3 linked regions of the Homo sapiens genome follow. The protein of the gene in region 1 purifies or fractionates together with the protein of each later gene. This does not show direct contact. Each region holds a gene or a part of one and is shown on either strand. Other genes may lie near its edges. The genes, in order: KNDC1, ASAP2 and PPP2R5B.

Evidence for each region.
Region 2: the proteins of KNDC1 (region 1) and ASAP2 purify together in Homo sapiens (affinity purification with mass spectrometry; one large-scale study listed by BioGRID and IntAct). This does not show direct contact.
Region 3: the proteins of KNDC1 (region 1) and PPP2R5B purify together in Homo sapiens (affinity purification with mass spectrometry; one large-scale study listed by BioGRID and IntAct). This does not show direct contact.

What each region holds. Positions count from the first base shown.
Region 1 is NC_000010.11:133,187,717-133,191,364, forward strand, and holds part of KNDC1 (kinase non-catalytic C-lobe domain-containing protein 1), read left to right. Parts: intron 1-822; coding exon 823-937; intron 938-1,881; coding exon 1,882-1,953; intron 1,954-2,035; coding exon 2,036-2,097; intron 2,098-3,648. UniProt on the Homo sapiens protein: RAS-Guanine nucleotide exchange factor (GEF) that controls the negative regulation of neuronal dendrite growth by mediating a signaling pathway linking RAS and MAP2. May be involved in cellular senescence.
Region 2 is NC_000002.12:9,213,180-9,216,827, reverse strand, and holds part of ASAP2 (arf-GAP with SH3 domain, ANK repeat and PH domain-containing protein 2), read right to left. Parts: intron 1-3,648. UniProt on the Homo sapiens protein: Activates the small GTPases ARF1, ARF5 and ARF6. Regulates the formation of post-Golgi vesicles and modulates constitutive secretion. Modulates phagocytosis mediated by Fc gamma receptor and ARF6. Modulates PXN recruitment to focal contacts and cell migration.
Region 3 is NC_000011.10:64,927,684-64,931,331, forward strand, and holds part of PPP2R5B (serine/threonine-protein phosphatase 2A 56 kDa regulatory subunit beta isoform), read left to right. Parts: intron 1-118; coding exon 119-220; intron 221-382; coding exon 383-475; intron 476-611; coding exon 612-742; intron 743-2,638; coding exon 2,639-2,698; intron 2,699-2,797; coding exon 2,798-2,906; intron 2,907-3,648. UniProt on the Homo sapiens protein: As the regulatory component of the serine/threonine-protein phosphatase 2A (PP2A) holoenzyme, modulates substrate specificity, subcellular localization, and responsiveness to phosphorylation.

The sequences.
Region 1 (3,648 bases):
CTCCCAGGCTGAACGCATGCCTGGTGTCACGGTGTGTGTGTATGTGAGAAAATGCACCGAACAAAAGCCACCACTTCAACCCTCTGCAAGAGCACAGCTCAGCGGCATTGGGTGTGTTCACGCTGTTGCACAGCTGTCCCCATCAGCCCACACGAAACCCCAACCCCCGAGCCCGCCCCCTGCACCCCGTCCCGCCCTCCACCTCCATGAGCCTGGCCCCTGCACCCCGTCCCACCCTTCCCCTCCATGAGCTCTGTCCAGGGGCCTCGTGGGAGTGGGATGGACAGAGCTGTGTGTCTGGTCTCTTCACTGAGCCCACTGTCCTCACGGTTCCTCCCCAGGGAGCCTGCGTGAGAACCCCCCATCCCTGTCCCGAGGCCAAGCGCCATCCACACTGCCCCTGCGTCCGTCCGTGGATGCCTGGGTGCTCCCCGTGTTGGCTATTTCGAGCCGTGCTGCTGGGAACATGGGTGTGCACGTATGCGTGAGCCCTGCCCTCGGTTCCTCGGGGAATGTGGCCGTGTGGAACTGCTGTCACCTGGGAGGTGTATGTTGAGCTTTTCAAGGAACGGCAGCACTGTCGTCTGCAGTGGCTGCACCGTGGGACGTTCCCACCCACAGGGCCAAGGGCCCCAGTCTCCCCACGGCCCCCACACGCTGGAGTTGACTTAGGGACCTCCCTAGCCCTTCTATCAGGTGTGGGGGGCGCCTACTCAGGGGCTGAGTGGGCCTCACCCTGGCCTGTCCCCCGGACATGCCTCTCCAGGCGGCGGGCCCTGGCAAGGGGTGTCCACACTGACCTCGCCGCTCTCCTGCCCACAGTGGGTGTCCCTGCAGGACCTCCTGTCCCAGCTGGGCCGGCCCTTCCGGGAGTACGAGCTGTGGGCCCTGTGCCTGGCCTGCCTCCGCGCACTGCAGACACGCCCTGAGCACCCAGGTGACGCACGCACCATCCCATCCCCCCCGCCGTCCCCACCCCCCACTGCTGTTCCACCCCCCACCGCCGTCCCACACCCCCGCCGTCCCACCCCCCACACCGTCCCACGCCCCCCCACTGTCCCATCACCCCTGCCGTCCCATGCGTAACTGGCCCCCACCTGAACCAAGGGACCCAGGGGCAGCCAGGACAGTGTCTCCGGTGAACGGAACAGGCGGCTCCCGTCTGGAGCACCTTGTGGGTGCCTGCTGGGTTGCAGCACCGAGGGAGGTGTGGGGACAGATGCCTGCAAGGTGGGCCTTGAAACCGGTGACTGTGCCGTAAAGAGGAACGGGGACTTTGCCATGGCCCTCGCCCACACATTCTCAACACAGTGACATTGTCCCCAGGGAGGCAGCAATTGGCTTTGGAGTGGGGAGGGAATCTTCAGCATTGCACGGGTCTGCCCCGTCAAAGCCTAGCCCTGCCAGACATCAGGGCAGACGGACGGTGCATCTGAGACGTAAAAACGTCCTGGGGGTGATGAGGGCAGCATCTGAAAGGGCTGGGGGAGAGGCCATCGGAGACACACCCGGCTCCAGTGTCCGTCCACCGTGAGCCCGTGGCTGCCCCGTGGGCCCTGACTCGGGACGGGGCCTGTGACACGGGGGCTTCAAGTTACCGTGTTCTCCCTGCCGCTTGGCTCCCTTTCAGCCGCAGATATGCCGCTGCAGCCACTGTGTCGGCTGGGGCAGCGCTACCCTCGGGGAGGGCTGGGAGGAGGCAGCTCCGAGGACCCCGGGGGCTGGGGTCAGGCCATGTGCGTGCACTGGCAGGTGCGTGCCCGTGCAATGGGGAGGCTGGGGGGCTGCCCGGCCTGACTGAGGCTCCGCAGCTCCTTCCCCCCAGCCAGCCCCAAGTGCGGGGCAGCATGCATACCCGCCCTGACCCAAGCTCTGCCACAGCCTACCTGTGTCTGGACTCCGTGCTGGTTGCTGAGGACGGGGCTGTGCTCTTCCAGCCACCCCCTGCCAACGGTGAGTGTGTGGGTTCCCCTCAGGCCGAGTCCAGCACCGGCTCGCCAGGGGTGAGGAAAGCTCAGTCGGGTTTCTCTCTTAGGTTCCTATGACTCGTTCTTTCTGGCTCCCGAGCTGGCAGAGGAGAGGCTGGTAACTGAAAAGGTACCCGGGCCCTCCCCACCCTGCCCCAGCCCTGCCCCCAGCCCTCGGGGATGCCACGTCCCCCATCTGTCCAGCAGCCCCCCATCAGGACTCGAGGGAGTCAGGGCAGCCCTTCCTGGCCAGGCGGCCACAGGCGGTATCTGCCAGCAGGGCCGTGGCTCTGGCCGGGGCACCAAGACAGGGCTTGGTGTGGACGGCACTGGCCATGTGCACTAGAGCTGCGCCTCCTGGCTCACGAGAACTAAGGGCTAAACAACCAGGGATGTGTATAAGGCACCTGTGAAACATGAGCATTCTTAAAATTTAAATTACACAAATTTAAATACAATTCAATAAATTACATTCAAAATCAAGGTAAAACTTCCACTCAGGAATGATAGAAATGTGTACTTCCCGCTCCTCCCACCGAGGAAGAGCACTAAGTACCCTACACTAAGCACCCTGCACTAAACAAACACCCTGCAATAAGCACCCTGCGCTAACCACCCTGCATTAAACACCCTGCAGTAAGCACCCTGCACTAAACACCCTGCACTAAGCACCCTGCACTAAACAAACACCCTGCACTAAACACCCTGCAGTAAGCACCCTGCACTAAGCACCCTGCAGTAAGCACCCTGCACACTGTGCAAAAAACAAGCACCAGGCCACCTGCAGGGGGAGGAGACGGCAGCCGGCGAGGGGCCTCTGGACCAAGGAACAAGGCAGCCGTGAGTGCCCTGGGTTTTCCTTCTGCCTCACATATTGAGACTTGGAGGTAAAGAAGCCGGTGACCGGGAAAAAGCAATGGGCGCACACTAAAAGCCGCGCTTTTTCATCTTCTGGGGATGTTGTCTAGAGAAACTCGGAATGGTCCACCATTTGCCAAACCATCGAAGGCTTTCCTGCAGTCTAGCCTGTAACGAAAAGAGGCTGTCCTGAACCCCAGCAATAGATCGTTCACCTTTACACCAAGAAGGCTGGGAAAGCACTGTCATCTGCAGGTGGCCCAGGCCGACCTCAGGGGGTTGGTGCTGTGAGACCTGAAGCTCTTATGAGATTGTCTCAAACAAAAACCGCGTCCGTGAGGCTGCAGTGGCTCTGTGTGCACTGTGTGTGTTCCTGTGGGATCCCTTCAGGGTTAGTGCTTTCCCCTTCAAGGAACGAAAATCGCTGGGAAAGTGCTGAGGCACAAGCACAGAGTCAGAAAACTAAGAAAAAATGAAGCTTTTTGGAGTAATAAAAAAGAGTTTAAGCCCCAACTGGCCGGGCATGGTGACTCACGCCTGTAATTCCAGCAATTTGGGAGGCCAAGGCGGGCAGATCACTTGAGTCCAGGAGTTCGAGACCAGCCTGGGCAACATGGCGAAACCCCATCTCTACTAAAAATACAAAAATTAGCCGGGTGTGGTGGCACGTGCCTGTAATCCCAGCCAGGTGTGGTGGCACATGCCTGTAATCCCAGCCAGGTGTGGTGGCGCATGCCTGTAATCCCAGCTACTCGGGAGGCTGAGGTGGGAGGATTGTTTGAACCCAGGAGGTTGCAGTGAGCCAAGATCATGCTACTACACT
Region 2 (3,648 bases), on another chromosome or scaffold:
CAGGAGTTCAAGACCAGCCATGACATGGTGAAACCTTCTCTACAAAAAAATACAAAAATTAATCAGGGACCGGGCATGGTGGCTCACACTTGCAATCCCAGCACTTTGGGAGGCCAAGGTGGGTGGATCACTTGAGGTCAGGAGTTCGAGACCAGCCTGCCCAACATGGCAAAACCCCGTCTCTACTAAAAATACAAAAATTAGCTGGGTGTGGTGGTTGGCACCTGTAATCCCAGCTACTCAGGAGGCTGAGGCACAAGAATCACTTGAACCTGGGAGGCAGAGATTGCAGTGAGCTGAGATGGCACCACTGCAGTCCAGCCTGGGTGACAGAGTGAGACACCGTCTCAAAAAAAAAAAAAAAAAAAAAAAAATTAAACAGGCATGGTGGGGCACACCTGTAGTCCCAGCTACACAGGAGGCTGAGGCAGGAGGATCGCTTGAGCCCAGGAGGTCAAGGCTGTGGTGAGCCAAGATCACACCACTGCACTCAAGCCTGGGCAACAGAGCCAGACCCTGTCTCAGAAAAAAAAAAAAAAAAAAAATATGAACTGACATTGACTTCACCCACACTCTGGATATCCCCAACACACTCTTGCAACAGCAGCAGCATTTCAAATCCATACCCTCACTGAAAATAACACACACTGCAAAGTCTCCCTTAAAATTCTGGGTAGGTGGTGCCCATGAATCTTCTGGTGCTTCACAATGGAACTTGCCCTGCAGAGTCAAAGGCAGTACATGCCGTGTGACACAAACAAGAAAGGCACAAATAGGAGAGCTGGGTTGTAGGACCTACCCAGCTCAGAATCCTAATTACAGGACTCAGAAGGTCCAATGTGCAGCTCTGCTGAACTCTTGAGGCATGCACAAGTATATGAACTGACCTGTGGGATCAGATGAGAAGCTGCCAAGCCATAACCCTGAAAGAACAGAGGGCACCCCACGGATGTAAAACCACAGTGGATGGCTCCCCGCCAAGAGCGCTTCTAAACACCTTTAGCGCCTCATAATTCTAACACTGGCCTAGGGTGCAACTCTTCTCAGCTAGACTCTTAGAACCAATTCATGGCAAGGACAGTATAATAATTATGAAATATAATAATTATATTTAACAAACAGAGTGGTTAAAGAATCCATCACTCCAAAAAAAAAAAAAAAACTAGCTAAACAAATCTTACCATCAAGCCTGGAATTCTCTGTCTGAATCCAGGGGGTCCATAAACTTGGATTGGAAAAAAAAAATTATCTGTATTTTCATTAGGGTCTAACTGAAATTTATCGTATCTTTCAATTACAAATGTAAGCAACACATGGTAATATTATCAATACTTGCAATAAAAGATATGAACATTACATTATCTTTATTAGAAATATCTCGTATTGTTTATATTCATCAATACCTCAAAATTAAGGTATTTGTTAGACCCACCAGTAAATCTTGTTATTAAATGCTTTAGTAAAGAAGCATTATGAGCATGGTAAAAATTTTTAAAATATTCTCCTAACTGAATTTCAATATACAGTCGTGCTCCACATAGTGACATTTCAGTCAACAATGAACCACACAGACGACCTCTCATAAGATTATAAGAGGGATTTTTACTGTCTTTTCTATGTTTAGATACACAAATACCACACATAAATACTGTAACTGTGTCGCAGTTACCACGGTATTCAACACAGTGGCATGCTGTAAGGTTTGCAGCCTAGGAGCAATAGGCTCTTAATATATAGCCTAGGTGCCTGCATGCCATCTGGGTGTGTGTAAGTGCACTCTAGGATGTTCGCACAATGAAGAAATCTTAACGATGCATGTTCGTCATTAAGCAATGCATGACTGTGATTAGTTTCCTTCGGAATCTTATTTTGTTCTCTGCATTAAAACATTTTTCTGAAGAGGCAGATCACCTTCGCCAGAGTGTCAAAGGGAGCCATGGCACAAACAAGGTTAAAAGGATGAAACAGAACTGCACATAAAACATGAGACTATTAAGTGCTTTCTAAGGAAGGAGCTAGTCCTGTTCACTTTTTTTTTTTTTTTTTTTTTAGACGTCCAGGCCATCCTGTCCACTTTTACATCCCTGGCACCTGGCAGTGACAACATACGGTAGGGGCCCAATATACATTTATGAGTGAAGAAACTAAATCAGTCAAATCCCTTCATAGAAATGACCATCATCATAAAAATACAGCCCAAGTATTCCAGCTCGGGTTGGTAGTCTGTTTATTCCAAGACATTGTTGACATGATAAAAACGATAATGGTATAAAAGCACCTGGAAAGGCAGCCGGGCGCAGCGGCTCACGCCTATAATCCCAGCACTTTGTGAGGCCGAGGTGGGCGGATCACCTGAGGTCAGGAGTTCAAGACCAGCCTGGCCAACATGGTGAAACCCCATCTCTACTAGTAATACAAAAATCAGCCGGGCATGGTGGCAGTCACCTGTAATCCCAGCTGCTCAGGAGGCTGAGGCAGGAGAATCCCCCTTGAACTCGAGAGGCAGAGGTTGCAGTGAACCGAGATCGCACCACTGCACTCCAGCCTGGGTAACCGAGCAAGACTCCACCTCAAACAAAATAAAAAAGAAAAAGAAAAGAAAAAAAGTACCTGGAAGGGCCCTAGCAATCCACTTGGAGGCCACATTACACAGAAAAGGCGTAAGCAAAGGAGGTAGGTTCATATCACGGAACGTCACCTCTCTTTAGTAGGGAAAGAAAGAGGAGTGTTTGGGGAGCTGAAATGGGGATAGCATCCCAGGCATCTGACAATGCCCATAAGTATCACCTGCTGTAGTCTGCATAGAAACAGCAGAGGGTCGCATGAGCAGATCCCTCAGTCTCAGTCTATGCAGCCATGCTTCTCTCTTTCCCTGGGCCCCAGTCTATGCAGCTATGCTTCAATCTTTCCTTGATTGACCCTGGAACTGGTCCCAACACAAGTCCTATAACCAGTCACATCAAGCAGCACAGAGCTGGCCTGGATTCTGACACTAAGTAGCTCTAGACAGCAACAGCTTCACCATGGGGATGCTGGAAGGTCTGTTCAGGGGGCTTGGATGAACTGAGCTTGGCTGTTGCCCTGTTTGGGGCAGGAGTTCTATTGGGTCTACCTCTATGCCACTAGCACACAATAATGACAATCCATCAGTAGGTTTGGACCCCTCTTCTTGTACAATGGACCTCAATCAGGCCACTTACCACCACCCCCCCTGCTACCTCCTCATCCAAGACCTCTTGCCTAGATGACTGCAATAGCCCCTCACCCCACAACTGGTCTCCCTCTTTCCTTTCATGCCCTGCTAGTCTGTTTTCCCTAGAACCACAGTGAAGTCTTTAAAATGGATATCGGACCATGTTATTCCCTGCTCAAAACCCTTCAACAGCTTCCCATCACACTAGAACAAAATCCAAATTCCTTCCCCAAGATGGACAAGGCCCTCTGTGACCTGGCACTGCCCACCCCTCTGCCCGTCTCTCATCCTTCTCTTCCTCGCCCACTCCTCCCCACACACCCTGACCTTCCTTCAGTCCTTCCATGATCCCGCCCATTGGCATTTCAGGGCCTTTTCCCAAGCTGTTCTATTCCCACATCTTCTGTGGCTGGCTTCCTCTCTGCATTCCAGCCTGCTCAAATGTCACCTCTGCA
Region 3 (3,648 bases), on another chromosome or scaffold:
GCAACAGAGCGAGACCCTGTCTTGGGAAAGAAAAAAAAAAAAAAAGCTTTGAATGAGAGACTCCCTGGCTTCTGTCTTCAAGGGCTTTTCCTTAATGAACCCCAACTCTGCCACTCAGATCTCAGTGAATATCTTCCGGACTCTGCCGCCCAGTGAGAACCCTGAATTTGACCCTGAAGAGGATGAGCCCAATCTTGAGCCTTCGTGGCCACACCTGCAGGTCTGAAGGGTTGGGGAAGACAGAGATCCAAGTTTCAGAAGAGATCCAAGGCATGGGGAGAGGGCCTCCTTAGCCCCTAGACAGTTGGATGAGGGCCATAGGGTGGAATGAGTGGGTGAGGCTGTTACTGAACTCACCTTTTTGTCTGTCCCCCTCCCCCAGCTGGTATATGAGTTTTTCCTGCGTTTCTTGGAGAGCCCAGACTTCCAGCCCTCCGTGGCCAAGAGATATGTGGATCAAAAGTTTGTCCTGATGGTGAAGTGGGGAGCCCAGGCTGGGTGGTACCACAAGGCAGGGGCAGGCTCTCTGAGGGGCCAGGGATAGGATGGAAGCAACCTGGGGTGGACCTTTCCCCTGACCCTGACCCTGACCCTGACTCTGGTTCCCACAGCTCCTGGAGCTATTTGATAGTGAGGATCCCCGGGAGCGTGAGTACCTCAAGACCATCCTGCACCGGGTCTATGGCAAGTTCCTGGGTCTCCGGGCCTACATCCGCAAACAGTGCAACCACATCTTCCTCCGGTGAGTGGCTGCTGCCTGCCCAGCAGAGACCTGGGGAGGGTGAGAGGGCTGTTAGAAGACTGCGGCAAAGGCCATGTGCGGTGGCTCACACCTGTAATCCCAGCACTTTGGGAGGCCGAGGTGGGTGGATCACCTAAGGTGAGGAGTTTGAGACCAACCTGGCCAACATGGTGAAACCCCGTCTCTAATAAAAATACAAACATTAGCCAGGCATGGTGGTGGGCACCTGTAATTCCAGCTACTTGGGACGCTGAGACAAGAATTACTTGAACCCAGGTGAAACCCCGTCTCTACTAAAAATACAAAAAATTAGCCGGGCGCGGTGGCGGGCGCCTGTAGTCCCAGCTACTCGGGAGGCTGAGGCAGGAGAATGGCGTGAACCCGGGAAGCGGAGCTTGCAGTGAGCCGAGACTGCGCCACTGCAGTCCGCAGTCCGGCCTGGGCGACAGAGCGAGACGGATGAACCCAGGAGGTGGAGTTTACAGTGAGCCGAGATCATGCCACTGCACTCCAGCCTGGGCAACGGGGAGACTGTGTCTCAAAAAAAAAAAGAAAAGAAAACAAAAAAAAAGAAGACTGCAGCAAAGGCTCCTGGGCTGCAGGGGCCCTTGTAGAACTTCTGTTTTCCAAGCCCTTTCTCAGTAACGTATTACATATTGATTATACAAAGCCTGTGAAGTTGACAGAGAATGGGTATTTATTTCCATTTTACAGATGAGAAAGTAGAGGCCAAGAGAGATGAAATGGTTTGCAGGGACTGGGTCAGTCCAGGGGCCTAGGAGCTAAATCATTTGACCCTTATCATGCCAGGCCATAAGGACCCAGAGAGAGATTCTTTCTGCAAACATGCACTGAGCACCAGCACCCACTGGGCATCAAGGCTCACGTGGCCTTGTAGTTGAGACCATGGCTCTGAAGCTGTATGGCCTACATTTGAGTTTGGTTCCAACGTTTGGGTGAACTTTGGCAAATTACTTAAGCTCTCTCCTAGTTTGCTCGTCTTTAAAATGGGAATGCTGGCTGGGTGCAGTGGCTCATGCCTGTAATCCCAGCACTTTGGGAGTTGGAGGTGGGCAGATCACTTGAGATCAGGAGTTCAAGATCAGCCTGGCCAACGTGGTGAAACTCCGTCTCTACTAAAAATACAAAAATTAGCTGAGTGTGGTGGTAAACACCTGCAATCCCAGCTACTCAGGAGGCTGAGGCAGGAGAATCGCTTGAGCCTGGGAGGTGGAGGTTGCAGTGAGCCAAGATTGCGCCACTGCACTCCTGCCTGGGCGACAGAGCGAGATTCCATCTCAAAGATAAGATAAAAATGGGGATGCTGCTTGTACTAACTCAGGGACCATTATCGAGGTGACATGGGGCCTTGCCTGCAAAGCACTCAGCATAGCTCCTGGACTGAGGCCGGGACTCTGAAACATTAGTTGTTATTAGCTACAAAATGGGTGAGCCATGATCCCTGTCCTCCTGCACCTTGGAGTTCATTAGATTCCCTGCCTATTAACATTGGGGTTGTTTTATTTAACCGCTGAGTCTTGATTTCTTCATCCATGTGATGGATTTCTTAAGCCCCATCTCCCTGGATAATTCTGAGACTTACATGGTACGGAGTAGATGTGCTAAGTGTTTGTCATTCTCTTGGTTGACTGGCAAGAGAGCCTTGAGCTTGGGACTCAGTGGCAGAGGTGGCTGGGCTGAGAAGGGCATTTCAGTGTGGGGGGGCGGGGATCTCAATGGGGCCTGGTTTGGGATGTTGGGAAGGGAGCGCAGCCTCTGGGTTGGGGGAGAGTTGGATGAGCGTGCCGTGCAGGTGAGGGTGGGCAGGCAGGATGCCTAAGGGGGCACTGGGCCTACCCTGCTTGCTTTGAGCCCACCTGCGTTCTTCTCTTGCAGGTTCATCTATGAATTCGAGCACTTCAATGGTGTGGCTGAGCTGCTGGAGATCCTAGGAAGGTGATTCTCCCTGGGCCTCAGCTGGAGCTCAGGATTCTGGAAGGAGGGACTGGGGCCAGGTCACCTGAGCCCTCTTCCTCTCTTCTGCCTCCTCCTCAGCATCATCAATGGCTTTGCGCTGCCCCTGAAGACGGAGCACAAGCAGTTCCTGGTTCGCGTCCTGATCCCCCTGCACTCTGTCAAGTCGCTGTCTGTCTTCCATGCCCAGGTGAGGCCCAGGCCTGTCCCTGCTGCAGCAGGAGCTCCAGACAGTCAGGGCAGCCAGTGGGTCCTGGAGGTCAGATCCTCCAGGGATCCTATCTCACCTTCTTTGTCTTTATAATTCTGTTCCATCTACCTTAGAAAATTCCCACTGGCGCTTTAAGGCTAACCTCAGATATCAGCTCTGTGAAGCCAGGCTTTTCTTCTCTACCCTCCCTTGGCAGAATTACATTCTTCTCCATCTATATTCCCAAATATTTGGATACACAAATCTATTATGGGAGATTTTGATACACAATTTTTTTTTTTGAGACAAAACCGTACTCTGTTGCCTCAGCTGGAGAGCAGTGGTATGAACATGGCTCACTGAAGCCTCTACCTGCTGGGCTCAAGCAGTCCTCCCTTCTCAGCCTCCCGAGTAGCTGGGACCACAGATGTATGTGCCACATGCCTGGCTAATTAAAAAAAATTTTTTTTTTGTAGAGACAGTGTCTTGCTATGTTACCTAGGCTGGTCTCAAACTCCCAGGCTCAAGTGATTCTGCTGCCTCGGCCTCCCAAAGTGCTTGGATTACAGGCGTGAGCCACCACACTAGCCATATTATGGAACCTTTTGCAAAATTTATAAAGATGAGTTTGTTGACTGTCCCCACTCCCCGCGAGATCAGAGTTGTATTCCCAGCACACTGAATGTGATGCCTGGTACATCCTAGGCAGGTGATAAATGCTTGGTGAATAAGAAAGTAACAG